Linked DNA regions of Homo sapiens: region 1 is linked to region 2. Evidence: fine-mapped expression QTL. A gene starts in region 2. The other region holds a variant in brackets. All regions are shown on one strand. Distances are between the middles of the regions. Region 1 overlaps MICU2 (mitochondrial calcium uptake 2). Region 2 holds the start of MICU2 (mitochondrial calcium uptake 2).

Evidence for each region.
Region 1: its variant is fine-mapped to the expression of MICU2 in whole blood (TOPMed, PIP 0.98).

The regions. Positions count from the first base shown.
Region 1 is chr13:21,486,898-21,497,358 of GRCh38, reverse strand. MICU2 (mitochondrial calcium uptake 2) reads left to right here. Exons shown (of 12, transcript NM_152726.3): 10 at 1,199-1,307; 11 at 2,041-2,198; 12 at 4,006-4,668. The coding sequence ends at 4,110. Among named protein-coding and RNA genes, the nearest start is that of ZDHHC20, 33 kb to the right of the region's middle. The variant A/G (reference allele first, on the strand shown) is at 3,817.
Region 2 is chr13:21,599,836-21,610,012 of GRCh38, reverse strand. MICU2 (mitochondrial calcium uptake 2) reads left to right here and starts at 5,843. Exons shown (of 12, transcript NM_152726.3): 1 at 5,843-6,074. The coding sequence starts at 5,865. RefSeq lists enhancers at 5,660-5,729, 5,511-6,129, 6,130-6,749 and a silencer at 5,900-6,109.

The DNA.
Region 1 (10,461 bases), 110 kb after region 2:
GAGTCTCACTCCATCACCCAGGCTGGAGTGCAGTGGCGCGATCTTGGCTCACTGTAGCCTCCGCCTCACGGGTTTAAACAATTCTCCTGCCTCAGCCTTCCAAATAGCTGGGACTACAGGTGTGCACCACCACACCCAGCTAATTTTTTTTTTTTTTTCTTTTTCACCATGTTGACCAGACTGGTCTTGAACTGCTGACCTCAGGTGATCTGCCTGCCTTGGCCTCCCAAAGTGCTAGGATTAGACATGAGCCACAGCACCCAGCCCGTTTGTTTGTTTGTTTGTTATGTATTTTTTGAGACAGAGTCTCGCTCTGTCGCCCAGGCTGGAGTGCTGTGGCGTGATCTCGGCTCACTGCAAGCTCTGCCTCCTGGGTTCACACCATTCTCCTGCCTCAGCCTCCCAAGTAGCTGGGACTACAGGCGCCTGCCACCACGCCCGGCTAATTTTTTTGTTTTTGTGTTTTTAGTAGAGAAGGGATTTCATGGTGTTAGCTAGGATGGTCTCCATCTTCCGACCTCGTGATCCGCCCGCCTCCGCCTCCCAAAGTGCTGGGATTACAGGCGTCAGTCACCGCGCCCGCACCATTTGTTTTATTTGTAAGTGCTCAGATTTTGAAGTCAGATGGACCAAGGTTCAGATCCTGATTGTTCCAGTTAGTAGACTTTGGGCAAACTACATAACCCCTGAAGCGTTACTTACCTAAGACTTAGAGAGGCTAAGGTCATACACGTTATAAAGGGCAGAACCGGAATTTCAGCATTAAAAGTCCATCTAACTCCAAAACTCTGTGCTCTTACTCAGTGCTATGTCCACTAATAAAACTTAGCAGAAGTGGACCACTTAACAGAGTATGTTAGTCTCTTCAAGCTGCCGCCTCAAAACACCACAGGCTGGGCAGCTTAAACAATAAATTTATTTCTCACAGTTCTGGAGGCCAGGAGTCCAAGATCAAGGCACCAGCAGGGCCAGTTTCTGGTGAGGCCTCTTGCCCAGCCTGCACACAGCACCTTCTCACTGTGCCCTTTGTGTGGCCATTTCTGTGTGCACACAGAGAGAAAGGGACAGAGAAAGCTCTGTTGTCTCTTCCTCTTAGAATGATACTAGTCTCTACGGTAGAAAAGAAAGTTCATAGTTAACATTTATAAGATTATTTAATGTACTTACAAAATTGTAATAAAAACTCTTACTTTATTAGAGCATTAGTTTGGATGAATTCAAGTCATTTTGCCATTTTACAACCCACTTGGAAGACTTTGCTATTGCCATGCAGATGTTCAGTTTAGCTCATCGTCCTGTCAGACTAGGTAAGTTATATGAAAAACCATTTAATTTTTATCATCTATAAACAGTTTTACTATATTCTTCAACTAAATGCTACCAATCAAGGAACAAATTATAAGTAAAAATAGTTGATTGACCTTTTAATTCAGTGTGGTTATTCTAGATTTAGAATACCAGTACTCCAGTTTAATGGTTACTTTCTATACTTTTATTTTCTCATTCTCCTAAAAAGAAGGAAGAAGGCCGGGCATGGTGGCTCATGCCTGTAATCCCAGCACTTTGGGAGTCCAAGGTGGGCGGATCACAAAGTCAGGAGTTCAAGACCAGCCTGGCCAACATGGTGAAACCCCATCTCTACTAAAAATACAAAAACTAGCTGGGCGTGGTGGCAGGCGCCTGTAATCCCAGCTATTCAGGAGGCCGAGGCAAGAGAATCGCTTGAACCCGGGAGACGGAGGTTGTAGTGAGTCAAGATCGTGCCATTGCACTCCAGCCTGGGCGACGAGCAAGATTCATCTCAAATATATGTTTAGAGCATTGATTAAATTACAATAGCTCATTTGTCTTGCAGTGACTCTCATGACATTCGTCGGCTTATGGTTTGAATATTTTCTTCATGGGTATTTTTGTTTTTGTTTTACTTCCCAAATAATAAAAATTTGGATTTGCTTTTACTTCTCAAATAATGAAAATTTAGATTAATTTCACTTAGACTATTTCACATAGTTGATAAGTTGTTTTATGTTTGTTTTTTAGCGGAGTTTAAGAGAGCTGTGAAAGTAGCAACAGGACAAGAACTCTCAAACAATATTTTGGACACTGTCTTTAAGATCTTTGATTTGGATGGTGATGAATGTCTTAGTCATGAAGAGTTTCTTGGGGTGTTAAAAAACAGAATGCATCGAGGTTTATGGGTAACAGATTTTTTTTATATAATACATGTTTACATTGTCATTAACTGATATTAAACCTAGAATTTGGGCAATTGTACAGTCTTTAAATGGAGTTTTCATCACTTATAAAAAGACTATAAGCTGTAATTGAAATACAGAAATATATTTTATATATGAGATTAAACATCTTTGCTTTTTAAAAAATAATGTGAATCTAATAAGAAATCACTATTTAAAGTGACTGTGAGCTACGATCGCACCACTGCACTCTAGACTGTGCAACAGAGCAAGCCCTTGTCTCCAAAAAAAAATAATTTTTTAAAAAAGAAATTACTATTCAGAAATGTAGCCTAGCTGGACATGGTGGCTCACATCTGTAATCCCAGCACATTGTGGGAGGCCGAGCCGGGTGGATCACTTGAGGCCAGGAGTTTGAGACCAGCGTGGATAACATCATGAGACTCTGTTTCTACAAAAAAAGGGAAAAAAAATCATAGCCTAGGATTTGACTAACTACATGTAATTAGATATATGTAAATTCAAATCCCACCTCTACTGTTTATTAACTGCTTAATCTTGCAAAGCCACTTAATTTTTTTTAGTCTCAGATTCTTGACCCATACCATGAGGAAACTAATCTACCAGAAAGCATTATTGTTAGAATTTGATGTAAAATACTTAGTATAGTGGCTGAGATTATGAAGTAAATTTCACTATTAGCATTATTCACTCAAAGTCACATATGAGTCTATACTTGTGGGACAAATCAAATTCAGATTTTTGTTCAGATTAGAATGTGCTAGAAGCACTCTCAGAAAAGAAGTCTGCCAGGGGAAGACTAGGGTCCAAAGAGAATCTACATGGTTGGTAGGTAGGCAAGAAAAAAGGAAGGAGAGAGAGAGAGAATATGGTACTATTCATGAAAATAAAGCTATTTACAACTTAGAAAAGCAATTCCATTTCCTGCAACAAACATAACTTAGGGAAAAATAAATATTATTTTCATTAGCAAACATATTAATATTTTATAAACTTTGCAGTTATCCAACACCCATAAATATATTCCGGGAAATTAAGCCAGTCTTTTCAGTTCACAATTGAGTGTACCTGGGAGTCTCCTTGCCCTTTCTCAGAAGACATTAAAAAGAAAAGCTGTAAATCAGTCATAAGAAAAAGAACATATATAATCTGGAGTAGAATTTTGCTTCCACTTGGCTAATTTTCATCAGTGCTATGCTCCTGTGGTCCCCCGGATCCAAATATTTCCTAACCTTTACCTTTTCATTTTGTTGAGAGTAGTAGTAATCCACATGTATTTTTAGCTAACAAAACACGTCCATGAATTAGATTATTTCTTGAAGCTTTTCATCAAATACTTTGTGGCCTTTTTTTTTTTTAATTTTAGCCAATGTTAAATCAAAGCTTTAGGCTTATAATTGTATTCTACATAGCTAAACAAAGTTCACCAGAAAAAAAGGGAAAGATTATAAAACATTATAAAAGGAAAACATTATAAAGTAATTAAATTTTAAAGCCAGTATGTGAAAGAAGAGATGGCCCAAAGTCTTCATTACCCTCTTAGAGAAGAAACTCCATTAATGTGTGCTCAGTCTGGTTCCACTCCCTAGTAACCTTAAGC[A/G]TAGTTACATTCACTTTTTGTCTTTTACCCCCATTTTCAGTTCTGTTGTGATCATCTTTTACAACATAATTCACCCTCAACTATTTTTGGAGGAGTGTGGGAAGGAAATAAACAGTAACGTAAAGTATATATGAAATCATGTTTAACCTTGAAGACAATGACCCCTTGATTTTTACTTTCGGTTAACAGGTACCACAACATCAGAGTATACAAGAATACTGGAAGTGTGTGAAGAAAGAAAGCATTAAAGGAGTAAAAGAAGTCTGGAAACAAGCTGGAAAAGGTCTTTTTTAATAAAAGATATAATAGTATGGCAATTATATTGTTCCAAATGTCAAAATTTGTGATTTTTTAGAAGTACTTGCTATTTATCTTCTTAAGTCTTCATTGATATTCTGTGTGAAATAAGCATGTCTTGTACTTGCTTTCTGATTCATAATTTTATTAAAGAACTTAGTAGAAAGAAAAGTAAGTATAAAAATAGATATTGGATTCTGTCAGAAGGCCTAGATTTGAAATAATGTTTTGTACTTCGGTAAGATGGAAAACTTAGTGATTCACTGATTTCTTAGACACTCTAATATGATATGCTTTCTGGAAGGATAAAACAAATACATATGGGAAAAAGTACTTGAGACCAAGGCCAGCATCAATTCCAGACATCTTCATGTTCCTAATAGGCTAAATGAAGTTAAAAACTTATTTCAGATTTTTCTCATCTGTACCTTATATCTCATAAATTTATTGCATATTTTATGTCAGTAGCTTAGCTGTTTATTGTCTTTAAAATAACATGTAAACTTCAATGTTCTATCTGGAAGCAGAATAAAATATTTACATAGATACAAAAAATACTGAGGTGCTTTTTATTTTACATGTGTTTTTAAAACTACTTTAAAAAAAATTGTAAATACTCTCATCCCTTGCCAGCCTCATTAGTTCTTAAAACCTGGTGTAGCTGGGAGAAATTTTGACCCCAAGGTCAGGGGCTCATGGGATATATTAGGTTGTGGGAAACAAATGTTGCCAGAAGGTAATTGGCATTAAACTGAATATCAAATGGCATTTTTTAAAACCTGGTAAATAAAAATTATAAAAAACTTGTGTCTCAGACACACAATTTAGAAAATTGCAAATATATAAAACCAGTTCCATTCTCTAGAGAACTGGCTGATCCCAAGGCCGTGACAGGGAAAGTCCAAGATAAGCCTAGAATATATTGTGCCTAAAAGTAAAGAAGGGCTCACAAAATGGTGAAGAGTCAGAAGGACAAAGCCAGCTTGAAGGGGCTGCCCCTGTCAAATCTGGTTCAGTTTGAGGGTCAGAATAATTAATGTCCGTAATAGATTATAGCCTATTGAATGAAATAAGAATTCATGAGTTTACACCAAAAATTAATGAGGCCAGAGAAACCTCTCCCTTATTGTTGAAGGATAATGCCTTGAAATATGTTAATCCACTAAATTGAAAAACTCTCCCTCACAGTTTAATGATTGAAATCGACAAGAGGCAAAAGCTTTTGTCCATTTATTACAAAAAATATTTTGCTCCTGATTCAAAAACAAATTTGCTCTAATGAATTGTTTTATAAATAATTGCTTATAAAATAATTTTTTCTCTCTCTTATAAAACCAAAAGATAGGCAATGCAAGAAAGTATAAGTATGAATGAATGAATCCTCCACCATTTTCTCTGTCAACCACAAAAATGCTGACTCCTCACCTGTCTTTCCAGATGCCCTTATGGGTCAAGATTAGGGGCACAAAAATCCAAAAATTAAGATGGTTTCTCATGCCTTCACAGGCTTCACTTTTTCAGCCTCACCTGGCACTGATTTGTCTGCCCCACTTTCCACAGCATTCCATGAATACTGTTTTGTGCTCCAGCGACATAAAGCTCCTGGCCTTTCCTCATGTACACCATGTGCGTTTCACATACCCCTACCCCTAAGCTTGTTACACATGCCATTTCCTTCTGACAGCGATGCCTTTCCCTCGCTATCTTTTTTTTTTTTTTTTTTTTTTTTTGAGACGGAGTCTCACTCTGTTGCCCAGGCTGGAGTGCAGTGGCACGATCTCGGCTCACTGCAAGCTCTGCCTCCTGGGTTCATGCCATTCTCCTGCCTCAGCCTCCTGAGTAGCTGGGACTACAGGCACCCGCCACCACGCCCGACTCATTTTTTTGTATTTTTTAGTAGAGACGGGGTTTCACCATGTTGGCCAGGATGATCTTGATCTCCTGACCTCATGGTCCACCTGCCTCGGCCTCCCAAAGTGCTGGGATTACAGGCGTGAGCCAACGCACCCGGCCCCCTTGCTATCTTCTTGGTGAAATTCTAGACATCAAGGTGCTACCCACATACCAAGTTTGTATCTACCAAAGTATTAAGAGCAGGAGCACTGCCTTAGTCATCTTTATATACCAGTCTAAGCTGAATCCCTGGCTTACAGTAGGCATCCAACAAATATTTGTTGAACAGAAGGAAAGAAGAGAGGGAGGGAGGGAGGAAAGGAGGAGATTTGGGATGGGAGGAGCTAGTAAAGTTCATGAGTTAATCAAGAAGTATGCCAAAAACCTGCTAGGCCCCAAGCATACAGTGGTGAAATAAATGGTTCCTGCTGTCATGGAACTTGCAGAAGGTGAAGACTGAAAACTAACCAGGAAACATTTTAAGTATATATATACAATTAAAAACTAAGATTTAAAAAAAAAAAAGTGATGTTAGAGATCAGAAGACTTTCTTACAACAAGAGTATTTAGAGGGTTGAGGATAGTTTTCCATTTTTCAAGGCTAAAAGGAAATTACTATAACTGAAAAGATTTCTGAAAACGAATAATGTTTGTCATGTCATTACTACAAAAGTACTTGATCCCATTTGAAAAAAATAGGGATAAATATATATCAAATAAGCAAACTAGATTTGCCAATATCTCCTAGGAGTACGGAGACATTTACCTTGAAAGCAGCTGGACTTCCTAAAAATCTAAACTGCATGAATCTTCAGTCATTTGTTTCTTTACTATCATTTTGTTAAATAAATGATCACTAGGTCTGATATTCTGGTAGATAGCTTGTATTTCTCTGCTTATCCCTTCAAGGTGGGAGACAGTTGCAGGGGGTATCTGAGCCCTGCCTTCACGGATCTTCTCCTCCTTGCCCATCCCCTCAGGAATCTCATCACCCCTCTGGCTTCTGTTCTCTCCTCACCTTCAGGCCCAGTTGCTTTCTAGATTTCTCCATTTGGTTTGTCCAACTCAAGCACATCCAAAACTGACCTGATTATGTCCCCCTCTTTTTCCAAACCTCATTTCTTCACATGTCTTCTGCCTTAGTGAACGGGTCTCCTACAAGAAACCAACTAGGAACCAGACAGTCATCCCGGATCCTCACTCCCTTACTCCTCTATAGTCAATCATGTCCTGTGAATTCTGCTTCCTCAAAATCGCCAGACATGTGCTCCACCTTACAACACTGTTGCCACTGCCTTAGTGCAAGCCCTGATCATTCATTACTTAGATGATCTCCGTGGAATCCTAACTTGCCCTTTGTCCGGCCCCTTGTAAGGCACAGCAATTAAGCATCCAAACTCTGCTGTTAGACTACCTGGATTCAAATCTCAGCTTCACCACATTAGTTATATAACTCACCACATAACCGTTTGGCAAAGTACTTGAGCTCTCTGTGCCCATTTTTAATCTAAAAAGGAATGATTTTAGTTGTGATGTCATAGCCTTTTTGTAAGGATTGAGATGATGTATGAAATGCACTGGAGTAAACCTTTAGCAGCTTTTAAATATTAATGCTGTTAACTTCTTATTTCAGATCCTCCTTCACAACAGACTTATTTTCTGAAACATAAATCTGATCATGTCACTACGCTTCTGATAATCTTACGACACTAAAATCGCTTAAAAAATAAAATTCAACTCTACATGATCTTGCCCCATCTATCTTTCTCATATCCTAACACTTGCCACCACACACTTTACACTACAACAATACTGAATTACTTCTCATCACCCCGCTTGGCCATGTTCTCACTCTCCAAGTGTTTGCACTTACTAGTGCTTCTGTTGAAGATGCTCCCACCTGCCTAACTTCCAGTGCCATTTCATCTGCAAAGTTTTCCATTTTTCTCCCTGCTTTTCCCTCAAATTCATTTAGGGATACATGCTGTTAGTTCCCTCACACGTTTCTGTCCACATATCTTTCAAGCCTCATTAAAGTATACTGGAATTCTTTTATGTATTTGCCTCTTCCCCTTGGCTATGAGCTCATTGATAGCAACAACATGACTCCTTTAACGCTATCTCCCAGCATCCATCAAAGAGCTAGCACATACTCGCTCAAAAAAATGTTTGACCTATGAATTAGTTAACAAAAAGGAAAGTGGAACAAGAAATAACCCTGGGCCAGGCACGGTGGCTCATGCCCACCGCTAATCCCAGCACTTTGGGAGGCTGAGGCAGGCGGATCACCTGAGGTCAGGAGTTCAAGACCAGCCTGGCCAATATGGCAAAACCCCAACTCTACTAAAAATACAAAAATTTAGCGAGGCATCCTGGCACGCACCTGTAGTCCAAGTTACTCGGAAGGCTGAGACAGGAGAATCACTTGAACCTGGGAGGCAGAGGTTACAGTGGGCCGAGATTGTGCCACTACATTCCAGCCTGAGTGACAGAGGGAGATTCTGTCTCAAAAAAAAAAAAAAAAAAAAAAATCCCCATATGTGCTTTAGCTGTTCTCACATACCAGCTTTTCTGTTACAGGACTGGACAGGAGAGAGTAGATGGCTTAAGGGAGCTTTAAGACAGCTCTGGTTTGGCCTCTGCTTTGGACACAGATAGCAAATATCAAGAGAGACTGGCCAGGGGTTCTGATACGGTTAGAAAGCAGAACAGGTTCTGGGAATGGAAACAAATTGAAATGTCCTCCCAAAGTTTGGAAACAAGGTTACCCTCCAGGTGTTAAATCATAAAAATCAAAGCATAATGTAGAGGCCAGGCATGGTGGCTCATGCCTGTAATCCGAGCACTTTGGGAGGCCGAGGCGGGAGGATCACTTGAAGTCAGGAATTCAAGACCAGCCTGGCTAACATGGTGAAACCCCGCCTCTACTAAAAACATGAGATTAGCCAGGTGTGATGGCAGGCACCTGTAATTCCAGTGACTCAGGAGGCCAAGGCAGGAGAATCGCTTGAAATCAGGAGGCAGAGGTTGCAGTGAGCCAAGATTGCACTCCAGCCTGAGCAACAAAGTGAAACTCTGTCTCAAAAAAAAGGCATAATGTAGGGAATGATGTCAGGGAAGATAGCAGAGCAGGAGGCTCCAGGAATCTGTCCCTTCACCTAAACAACTATTGAACTGGCAGGAATTGTCTTATTTTGGAACATTTCTGACATTTGAGGGAGAGTTTGATGAAGTTGCTAGTAAATTTTGGTGAACTTCAGCCTTTTGTGATGTAGCAGCAACAGCAAAAAGCCTGCCACCCAGCATCAGGAAACTGTCAGGGAAGCAGCCCACATTCCTGGGGCAGCTTCCTGGAACCAGTGTGAGCACAAAAGACCTTATCCTCCAGGAGTGGGGGTCATGTGTTCTGCTAGCTGCTTGCTGATTTTGATAAAGTGATGAGGGGCCAGGCTGGAGGCCAACCATTTTTTAATGCCCACTTCACAAGCTGAAGCAGCTTCCCAGCCACAAGAGATTTAAAGAGACAGGATATCTTCCCTCCTTCTTGAAAGTCAGACATTTAAGGACATTTTTGTCAGGTTACTGGCTAACTGTAGAGATAACAGAAAAGAAACCTCAGTAGCCACACACAACAAGGAAGATACATTGTTTGGAAAAGGCACAAATAGGAATGGGTCCAGCCCACAACAAGCAAAAACAAGCAATCCCTAAGGAGTAGAATTAGATTCCAGAGTTACTACAACATAATGCTCAGAATAACCAGTTCTCAACAAAAAATTATAAAACATGTAAAGCAACAGGAAAGTATGATCCATTCACAGGATATAAAGAATTTCACAGAAACCATACCTAAAGAAGACCAGACTTTGGAATTATTAGTCAAAGATGTTAAATCAATTGTTTTAAATATGTTCAATATGTTTTCTAAAGGAAACCATGAATAAACACTAATAGAAATCAAGAAAACAATGTCTGAACAAAATGAAAGTATAAATAGAAATTATAAAAAGGAGCCAAACAAAATCTGCAATAACTAAAATGAAAAATGCAATAGAGGGATTCAACAGCAAGTTTGAACAAGGAAAAGAGAGGACTGGCAAAATTGAAGATAAGACATTGAAAATTACCCAGTCTAGGGAAAAGAAAGAAAGAGTGAAGAAAAATGAAGACAGCCTGAGGAACCTATGGGACCTCATCAAGCATACCAAATACACATTATAGGAATCCCAGAAGGAGAAGACATAGAGAAAGGAGCAGCAAAAAATTTGAAGAAATAATAGCTGACAACTTCCCAAATCTGATTAAAAACATGAATATATACATCTAAGAAGCTCAATGAACTCCAAGCAGGAAAACTTTGAAGAGATACACACTGAGACATATAGTCAAATTATCAACTCCCATAGACAAAAAGATAATTTTGAAAGCATCAGGTAGAAGTGACTCATGCGGCCA
Region 2 (10,177 bases):
GCTGATGGCCTCTGGGTGGTGGTGCCGACACCACGTGTTCACACCGTGCTGTAGACTAAAGACAGCTAACCAGCAGACTGGCTTTGGGGAAAAGGAATGAAAGATGAAATTGAAATTTTCATTTGGGTTTTTAAGAAACAATAAAAATGTCAAAGCATTTGCATTTACTTAGTGGCTTGGTCTTCTGCATAGTTAAGAACAGGCTATTAAATTCTGGATGTCTCAATGCACAAGAATACACATCACAGACTTGAACATTTCTGCAGAAATCTTGGGATCAAGGAACATTTCATGAAATTATTTAGATCTTGTCCCTTGCTCCTCTGGATGTGCTGTCTTTCTTAACTCTTCTCTGTCACCATCTTTGATGTGCTTGAGATGTACATTTTACAGCTGAAAAGGAGCAAAGGAAAGAAAGTGTGAATTGTCTCCTTTGGTGGGCTACACCGAACTTTGGAGATATTATAACGGATTTTAAAATACCAATCAAATTCTTCTGACATACACAATCTGTTCCATAAACGTGTTTCCAGAAAAAATATTTTTTTGCAACCTCAAATGTTGTGCTGTCACTAATTTTCGTAAGTGTACTTTATGAGAACACAGATCCCTCTCCCTGAGATGTGGAAGTGTTACACAACACTCATACAACAGACTTTTTAATCTTCTTTCTGTTAGTGTCCCCCCAGCCTCCTAGCATTTTCAGCAATTTACACAACTTTTTTTCTTCAGTAAATGTTTGTTTCCATTGGATTATAAGCATTATTAAGAAATACAAAAACAAAATATTGGTGTGTGGGTTTTCTTTTTATGAGCACTCATCTTTTAAAAATCCATAATGAGCTGGCCACAGTGACTCATGTCTGTAATCCCAGCACTTTGGGAGGACGAAGAGGGAGGATCACTTGAGGCCAGGAGTTTGAGACCAGCCTGATCAACATGGTGAAACCTCATCTCTACAAAAAATACAAAATTTAACCAGGCAAGGTGGCACACGCCTGTAATCACAGCTACTCGGGAGGCTGATGCACGAGAATTGCTTGAACCTCTGAAGCAGAGGTTGCAGTGAGCTGAGATCGCGCCACTACACTCCAGCCTGGATGACACAGTGAGACTCTGTCTCAAACACACACACGCACACATACACACAAAATAAAAAATAAAAATAAAAATACATAATAAAATATGTAGAATAAAATTATATGAGCCTGGGGGCTATGCCAACATAATCTAACTGAGGGAAAAGGAGAAGGTGGAGATGAAATAAGACTGGCCATGAGTTTGTAATTGTGGAAGTCCAGCTCTACTCATCATTCTAGTCTAATTTTATATATATTTGAATTTTTCATAAGAAAAAGCTAAAAAAAGACAAGTATAATGGTTTCATTACCTCAACTAATAGTACAGTCACTCCCTCCATTCAGATTAATATATTTTTGTGAGGTACCTTTTTGAGCTATGACAGTCATCAAAAACTAATGTATAAATTAACTCAACATAATACCAGACCTTCTATCTCATAAAACCTAAATCAGCATTTTCCAAGTTAATGAAGCCAATTTAATCACATAGATCTCACTAAAATACTAACAGTTTTAGAATAAAACATTCATTGCATCTTTAATAATAAAAATACAATTTTATTTTGTAAATACTAATTCATCTTTACATCACCATTTACATTCTTACTATGTGGCTTTTAACATTTAGTTGTAAATGTGTAGATTTAAGAAATAAGCATACATAAATGGCAGGTTACATACTTTTAAAAGTTTTCAGCATAGAGGGCATAAGCCAATGTGTGAGACCACAGCCCGTGCCCAGGAAGCTCTATCCTATTTGTGCTTGTTGTCTCCAACGTGTGGTCCCATGCCTGGCACATATTTCACATTCGATACAGTTTGTCAACTGAGCAGAAAAAAAAGACACTTCGGAGTGGCATACAAAAAGAATTTTAGAAGTGTAAAAATAAACCAAAACCCATCTCCTCATTTTCCAACTGGGAGACAGAGGCTTAGGAAGGGTAAATCACAGAGCTAATGGATGTATGGTGAAAGAAATGTTTTAGGAAGATTGATCTAACATAGATCTGTGGGATGCTTCAGAGAAGAGAAAGACGAAGCAAAGGCACATGTTAAGAGATGGTCACAATAATCACAGGGCAAGGTAATGGGAGCTGCACTGCGAGGAAGGGAAGGTAATAAGATGCAGACGAGGATCTGAAAGACATACAAAACGCTCCTCTGGGCACTGCTTTCTCACTGTCAGTAAGATTTCACTTTAACCTATTTCTACACATGCTGGTATCAATCACGATACCCAGATATTTTTACTCATGGCCCCAAACTGCACAAAAAGACATAATTAGCAGTTCTTTTGACTCATTTAGGGCCTCTGAGAGTGATTCATACCCTCTGCTACACAATTATCCACCATAAATATAGTTCAACCTCTGACTATTCCAAGCAATGGTTCTTTATAATATCCATGCATATGCTTTTTACTTCATTCCTATAGGAGTCCAACCTCTTTAACTAATCTTTTGAGATCTCCCATATTTTTTCTCCTCCACCTAAGATAATCTGTCTCAGTGCACATTATTCTGGAATAGAGCAGTAAACAATCTTTCAGAATCCAATAGCAATTTTTGTTTTTCTCCCCACACATGCTAAGATCAAAGATGTGTTTGAGTTAATAATTTCTTCTAAAATGGAAATACAAAGGAGTAGATATCTTCAGTAAAAAAACTAGTTGACCTCTTTTGTTCAAGACCAGTAACCCAGAGGGAATCGAAGTTTTGATTGTCAGTAAAAAGGACAATAATTTGAAGAAGCGTGTGGATAGCGGCTAAGAAAGGCCAGGATAAAGTCCGGGCAAGCAGAAGAAATACACTGGTGGAGCATCTGAGATTCAGAAGAGGAGCTCAGCCTCAAGGCGGGTGGGGACGCTGAAAGGGAAGCATGAATACGCCAGTGACAAATGTGCAGAGGGTCAAGGGGGCTGACAACTGTTCCACAGACTGGAGATCATTGTGTGGCCCCTGCCTGGCCCTCAGGACACTCCAAGCCAGTCCCCAGCTAGCCCTTCTGCACCAAGCCTGTCAGCACACACTGTATGCACCCTCCCCCAGGCTCTCACCCTGCCTCAGACCCCAGCAAGTTCCAGATCAAGTCTTCTGTCTTCCCTAGATGCTTTTCTGCCTGTGCCAGCCCACCTCACCCTTGCTTCTCTGTACAGTATAAAAGTCAGAGACAATTGTTTTGAAATTCAAGCCTAGCCTCTCCAGTGAAAATAAAGCTCCTTAAGAGCAGTTTTTCTGACATATCACTTTCGTTCTTCTTCAGAAAAAAAGAGCAGGAGTAAGTGAATTAAGAATACTTTGAAACAATAAGTATTTCCATCCTGTTTTCGTCCAGTTATTTAAAACAGCATACAATGTACAGCTTTAGAAGCAGCTTCTTATTTGGGGGTTGGTTTATAAACTGCATGGTTGAAAATACATCCCAGCCCAGGACTTTACAGCTGATGATGAAGAAATGAACAAAGCTGGAGCCCAAAAAGACCAATATAGTCAATGTGCTTAGACAAATGTCAGCAGCTGCCAAGGAAGATTTCATACTTAGAATGGTTATTCGACTAGAGATTGGTTCTATTATAAGAATTTGTTTCCTCTGCATAAGAAAAGTTTGAATACATTAAATTATAAGTGAGAGTTCTAGATGCCTGGGCACATAATGAAAATTTAAAAAATAACTAATTACACTGTTTTCCAAGTGGGTTCAAAGATTTTTGGCAAAATAAAAAGAAGCTTTTGTTTTGAAAATAAAGTACCCCAAAGGAATAATATACTTCTGTATTTTGGATGGCCAAAGCATAGAAATATGAACCCCTGAGTTTCATTTGTGCCATTTATTTATTCACTTATTTACTCACTCATTGAATGTCTATTACGTGCTGGGCATTGTGCTAGGTGCTAGAGAAACAGGGAAAAGGAAGACATCTCACCCACAAGGATGTCAAATTGTGGGAGAAAGACAATGTTCTTAAATATGCTACATGTTTTAATGGGAATCTAAACTTATCTTGGGCTTAAGGCAATACTGAGTAATAGATGCCAGGTTTCATTAAATACCTAGAGGAACTGTGTGAGGCAGTTAGAAGTATACACGTAAAGACTGTGGTTTCTGGAAATCAAGAATAAACTACAAGGTAAGACATCCAGGGTGTCCAAAATATCCTGGAAGTCCTATTATCACCAGGAAACAAGCTAGATGTCAATAGTCCAGAAAAGCAGGACATGTGCCAAAGCTACCAGAGTTAGCAGAGGTGAAAAACAGTCCAGAGGTTGACAAAGTCAGGCTAGATACAAAAAAGCAGGAAAATCTCAGGTTAAGATGGGCTAGTGATCTGGAATCATGGACATTCAGTCAAGCTCATTTGTGTTCACAGGGCAGAAGTAAACCAAACCTTGACCACAGTAAACGCACATCTGTCATGAGCCTACCATGTGCCAGGCATTTGGCTAGTCACTTTATATAAAATATCTCATTTAGCTTCCCCACCCCAAACTGTAAGAGGGTTGTTCACAGATGAAAAAATTGAGACTCAAAGAGATTAAATACCTTACCCCAAATAGCAGTGATCATCTACCAAATCGTGAGTTATTTACAAATGAGAAAATGGAGACTCAGAGAGATTAAATAATTTGCCCCAAACCACAGTGATCATCCTGGTAGAGCTAAGATTCAAACCTTGAGGTCTGGCTCACAAGTCGGTGAAGTGAGGCTCATCTCTCTACTTCCTACCTGGGAAGGCACACTGAAAAGTAAGTCCAGAAGCTGACGGAAAAGTGAGGAACCTCTGACTGCAGATTAATTTAGACAAGCGGGCTAAGAGAAAGGGAGCAAGGATTAAGGGCAGATAATAACAAAGGGATCCACGGAACTTCCACTGAATGATCAAATTAGATTTCGTGTGACAGGTTTTTGTTTTTGTTTCTTGAAGTTTTGTTTTGTGCAAAACTTCAAGACAGCAGTGATTATGTGATTAGGAGTCTTGGCCCCTTTGATGTTGGCTCCGTTACTGCATGCCCAACTAAAGCTTCTAATAGCTGGGGACATTTCAGAGGCTGAACAAAGAGTTTATTAAAAAGAGTTACTCAGGAAAAGTGAAGACCAAAGAATGGAGGATTGGAGGCTGTTAAATAAAACCAAGTAGTCTGCCTCAGCTACATCACTTATCACCAATGCAACAGCCAGGACTGGAGGTATCGTTCTAAATCTGCACTGGGGAAAACCTCTGGGTCCCTGATGATAGAGACATGGGGCTGGTGTGCTGCTGTCTCTGACTTTTAGTTCTAGGTAGGATAAGAGCTACTATCAAACCTTTTGTTGAAACTGAATTTAAATTCATTATAAGCAAATAGTGAGGGACTGAAATAAACAGAATGCCTTGTCTGAGAGTTGTTTTAGCAGAAATGAAAGAACAGTCAAGACTATAAGCATAGGAAGACATGAACAACACAGATGCAGAAGAGACTATTTCAAAAAACGTTTCACAGTTTTACAAGGTGAAAAAATGAAAAGGAGAAACCTGCCCACACAACCGAGGGCACTATCTTGTTTTGGACTAGGAAGTCATATTATACTGTCTTGATACTCTTCCTGTCATCCCATCCCCACAGCCTTAGAAGGCAGCCCCGGAACCGAAGGCCACCTCTTGCGGCTGCGAGCGTCGCCTCAGCAACCGCACCCACGGCGCAGGCCCGGTAGGCGGGGCGGAAGCCTGTCGGATGTCGCGAGAGTTCCCAAGCGGTAGGCGGCGGCGCCGGGAGAGAAGCGCCGCCTAGCTGCGCTTCCGCAAAGATGGCGGCGGCTGCGGGTAGCTGCGCGCGGGTGGCGGCCTGGGGCGGAAAACTGCGACGGGGGCTCGCTGTCAGCCGACAGGCTGTGCGGAGTCCCGGCCCCTTGGCAGCGGCAGTGGCCGGCGCGGCCCTGGCAGGAGCAGGAGCGGCCTGGCACCACAGCCGCGTCAGTGTTGCGGCGCGGGATGGCAGTTTTACAGTCTCCGCACAGGTACAGGACTAACTCCTTCTGCTAGCCCCAGTCAAGCTCCTCCCTCCCCTGACGCCCTTAGGCGGGGAGTGGTTTGGCTCTGGGCGGCTCTCCCGGAGCCGTGGGTGGAGGTGCCGCTGCGGATCGGAGCGCCCTGCGACTGGTGGGACTCGCTCCTTCCTGGACCGGCCCCCGGCCTGAGTCCCCGAGGGCCTTCGAGGCTGGTGACCGGAGATTCTGCCTCCCTTGGGAGAACCCCGCGGACGCTGAACACCACGGCCCACAAAACTGGCCGCACTAATTTAGTGGTGATGAGTGTGGGCGTGTCTTAATTCGAGGCTCCTAATTCAGAATCTCACTGCGCCTCGCCTCTTGCTACCTCTCTGGTCAGTGAAGTGGCATTCACATCCGCAGGTGGTTTGCGTCCAGTTACCCCTGTGGGATATACCTTTGTTAAGCTTTGCAACTAAGTTTTACGATCTTTTCTTTGTATAGCATGATGAAGTTCTGTCGATTGCTTTTTTAAGTCACGAATGTGTCAGCCACAAAAATTAACCAGTTGATTTCCAGATTTTATTATCAACTTTAAGGAACATTATTGCATGATTATAAACCTTAATATCTTAGTGGACCATAAGTTCTAAGCAAAAATTGCTCCTAAAACCTCCATCTATTAAAGACAAGAGTCCGCCGGGCGCGGTGGCACACGCCTTTAATCCCAGGGCTTTGGGAGGCCGAGGCGGGTGGATCTCCTGAGGTCAGGAGTTCGAGACCAGCCTGGCCAACATGGTGAAGCCGCTCCCCACCCCAGCCCCGCCCCCCCGGTCTCTACTAAAAAATATAAACAATTAGCTGGGTGTGGTGGCGGGAGGCTGAAGTAGGAGAACCGCTTGAATCCGGGAGGCGGAGGTTGCAGTGAGCCAAGATCGAGCCATTGCACTCCAGCCTGAGCTACAAGAGCGAAACTCCGTCTCAAAAAAAAAAAAAAAAGATTCAAGTTCCCTATTTCAGGATAAATGATGTTGTAACGCATTTGAAAATTTGAATGAGTAGTGCTTTAAAATTTTTGTAGACTTAGTAAGTTTTTACATATGAGCTTTTTTGAAAATTGAAAGTAGTAGTTTATTATTTTCTTTTTTAGATTTACATTATGCCTTTCTAGCGAAAAACTCAAGGAACATTCAGATACAACAAAAAAGAGAGGAAAGAAGGCCTTGTGAGTTAAAATTAAGTATTGGCAACTGATATTCCTTATTTGTATTAACATACATTATAATTATATTGTAAACATATATAATGGAAAGATCTATTATCTAGTGTTTTTATAGCATTTTTGTGAATCTTGTGCCAAGGAGTTCAGTGTATTCATCATTAGTTTCTCTCCCCTAGATTCATCCTGGTTTTTTTGTTTGTTTTTTGTTTTTGTTTTTGTTTTTTTTGAGAGGAGTCTCGCTCTGTCGCCCAGGCCGGACTGCAGTGGCGCTATCTCGGCTTACTGCAAGCTCCGCCTCCCGGGTTCACGCCATTCTCCTGCCTCAGCCTCCCGAGTAGCTGGGACTACAGGCGCCCGCCATCGCGCCCGGCTAATTTTTTGTGTTTTTAGTAGAGACGGGGTTTCACCGTATTAGCCAGGATGGTCTCGATCTCCTGACCTCGTGATCCGCCCGCCTTGGCCTCCCTAAGTGCTGGAATTACAGGCGTGAGCCACTGCGCCCGGCCGATTCATCCTGTTTTTAAGACCCTTAGGTTAATCTTCTCCGGAGTATCACTTTAACCACACAGTGTACCCTTCTTCAGAAACCCTTCTTCAGTGTCTCATTTTGCCAAGAGTAAAATGCACTTTTTTTTTGTTGTTGAGATGGAGTCTCTGTCACCCAGGCTGGAGTGCAGTGGCGTGATCCCGGCTCACTACAACCTCTTAACTCCCCGGTTCAAGTAATTCTCCTACCTCAGCCTCCCAAGTAGCTAGGATTACAGGCATACGCCACCACGTCCAGCTAATTTTTTTTTGTATTGTTAGTAGAGCCGGGGTTTCACCATGTTGGCCAGGATGGTCTCGATCTCCTGACCTCGTGATCCGCCTGCCTTGGCCTCCCAGAGTGCTGGGATTACTGGCGTGAGCCACAGCGCCCGGCCAAAATGCACATTTTAAAACTTTGTCTTTCAGAGCCTTTTATAGTCACACTCTGACCTGACACTACTCAGGCACCTTCCCACTAAAGTGATTCACTCACTATCCCTAGAACAAGACTTAAATACCGCTCACCCGCCAGCTGCAATTTGTAGACTCTTGATTTCACTTATCCATCTAATTGTTTTTTTTTTTTCTGGCCCACTTCTAATCTTTCTCCTTTGAAATCCCTGACTTGATTCTAAAAGCTTCACACTAGTGTAGTTATTTTGGATTCTCTTCCCAACTCTCAGCTCTCCTTCCCTGCAGCTTTGTAAGTTTAATCTTAGCTAAAGTAATACAGAAACCATTTTATTATCAATCGTTTTATAAGGTCTGTTGGCATAGCATTTGCCTGATCTGCTATTGGACCGAGACAGTGGTTCTCATCCTTTTGCCACCACGGTGGACATTCCTTTCAGCATCAGTGGCTGAATACAGGAAGGATTGAGAGGACCTATAGGTTGAAAACTTTGCCTTCGCCTCAGTGATTTTGATACATTTCCCTAAGAAGTGGGCCTACTACCACTACTTTAGGGACAGGTGTGCATAGTTGAGCTAGATATATACCAGAATTTTGGCTTGTGATGAATCTTTCATTGCAATAGAATTTTATGCATTAATATAGTTACATTGGTATTCCAAGTTGGTAAACTCTTCCTGACGCGGCCCTATAATAATAGTGAATATGTCCGGCCGGGCCTGGTGGCTCACGCCTGTAATCCCAGCACTTTGGGAGGCCGAGATGGGCGGATCACGAGGTCAGGAGATCGAGACCATCCTGGCTAACACAGTGAAACCCCGTCTCTACTAAAAATACAAAAAATTAGCTGGGCGTGGTGGCGGGCGCCTGTAGTCCCAGCCACTCGGGGGCCTGAGGCAGGAGAATGGCGTGAATCTGGGAGGCGGAGCTTGCAGGGAGCCGAGATCCTGCCACTGCAGTCCAGCCTGGGCGACAGAGCAAGACTCCGTCTCAAAATAATAATAATAATAATAGTGAATATGTCCTTCATTTTCAGTCATTACACTAAGTGCTTTTTTCCAATAAAAATATAAATTTATATTAATGGAGTCCTACACTTTTCTAGTTCCCATTGTGACCAACAGCTTGCATTTGTGAGGGTCAGTCGGGAATTAAGGGTAGAGTTTCATGTCATGAAACAGTAGATAAATTGGAACCTTCCTTTTTTCTTTACTTTCTTCCTTTCACAAGTTTTGAAATCTTACTCTGTGCTAGACAATATGCCAGGAGCAGGGATTAGAGACACAGTTTATGTGCTTACAGTTTAATGGGGAACGGCAGTTTTAATACAATGTGATAAATGCTGTGGTAGGGTTAAATACTGGGTGCTGTGGAAGCATAGTGGAAGAGTATTTCACAAAGTCTTGGTTTCCTGAAGGAATTATGTGTAGGTTGACACCTGGAGGGTGACTGCAAGTTTGCTAGGCAAAGAGAAGGGGAAGAGTTTTCTAGGCAAAGGAGATAGCTTTACAGAGATCTGGAAGTAAGAGTTGGACTCAGCAGAGTAAGAGCTGCAAAAGATGGGGTTCAAAATTGGGTGTGAGCAATGGCTGGGAATCAGATCATTAAGTGTCCCATAAGCCATGTGACAGGAATTTTTATCTTGAGGACAGCAGGAAGCCATTGCAGGATTTCTTAACCCTCATGGACCCCCATATGTCCATGCATAGAATTTAGGGGATCCATGAACTTAGAAAAAAGATTACATTTTTGTTTTCATTGACAAAATTTCATCGACAAAAATTTTGTTTCATTGTTTTCATAAATTGTTTAATGTTTTCTTCATTTAATGAATGTAGGCAACAAGCTATAGTGGTATTACAGTAACTGCCTTTGTCATCAACAGAAATCTCAGATATTTTCGTACTATATTAGAGTTGTTGTAAGTATCTCAGAGTATCACTTCTTCAAAATGAAAACACTTTTTAAACC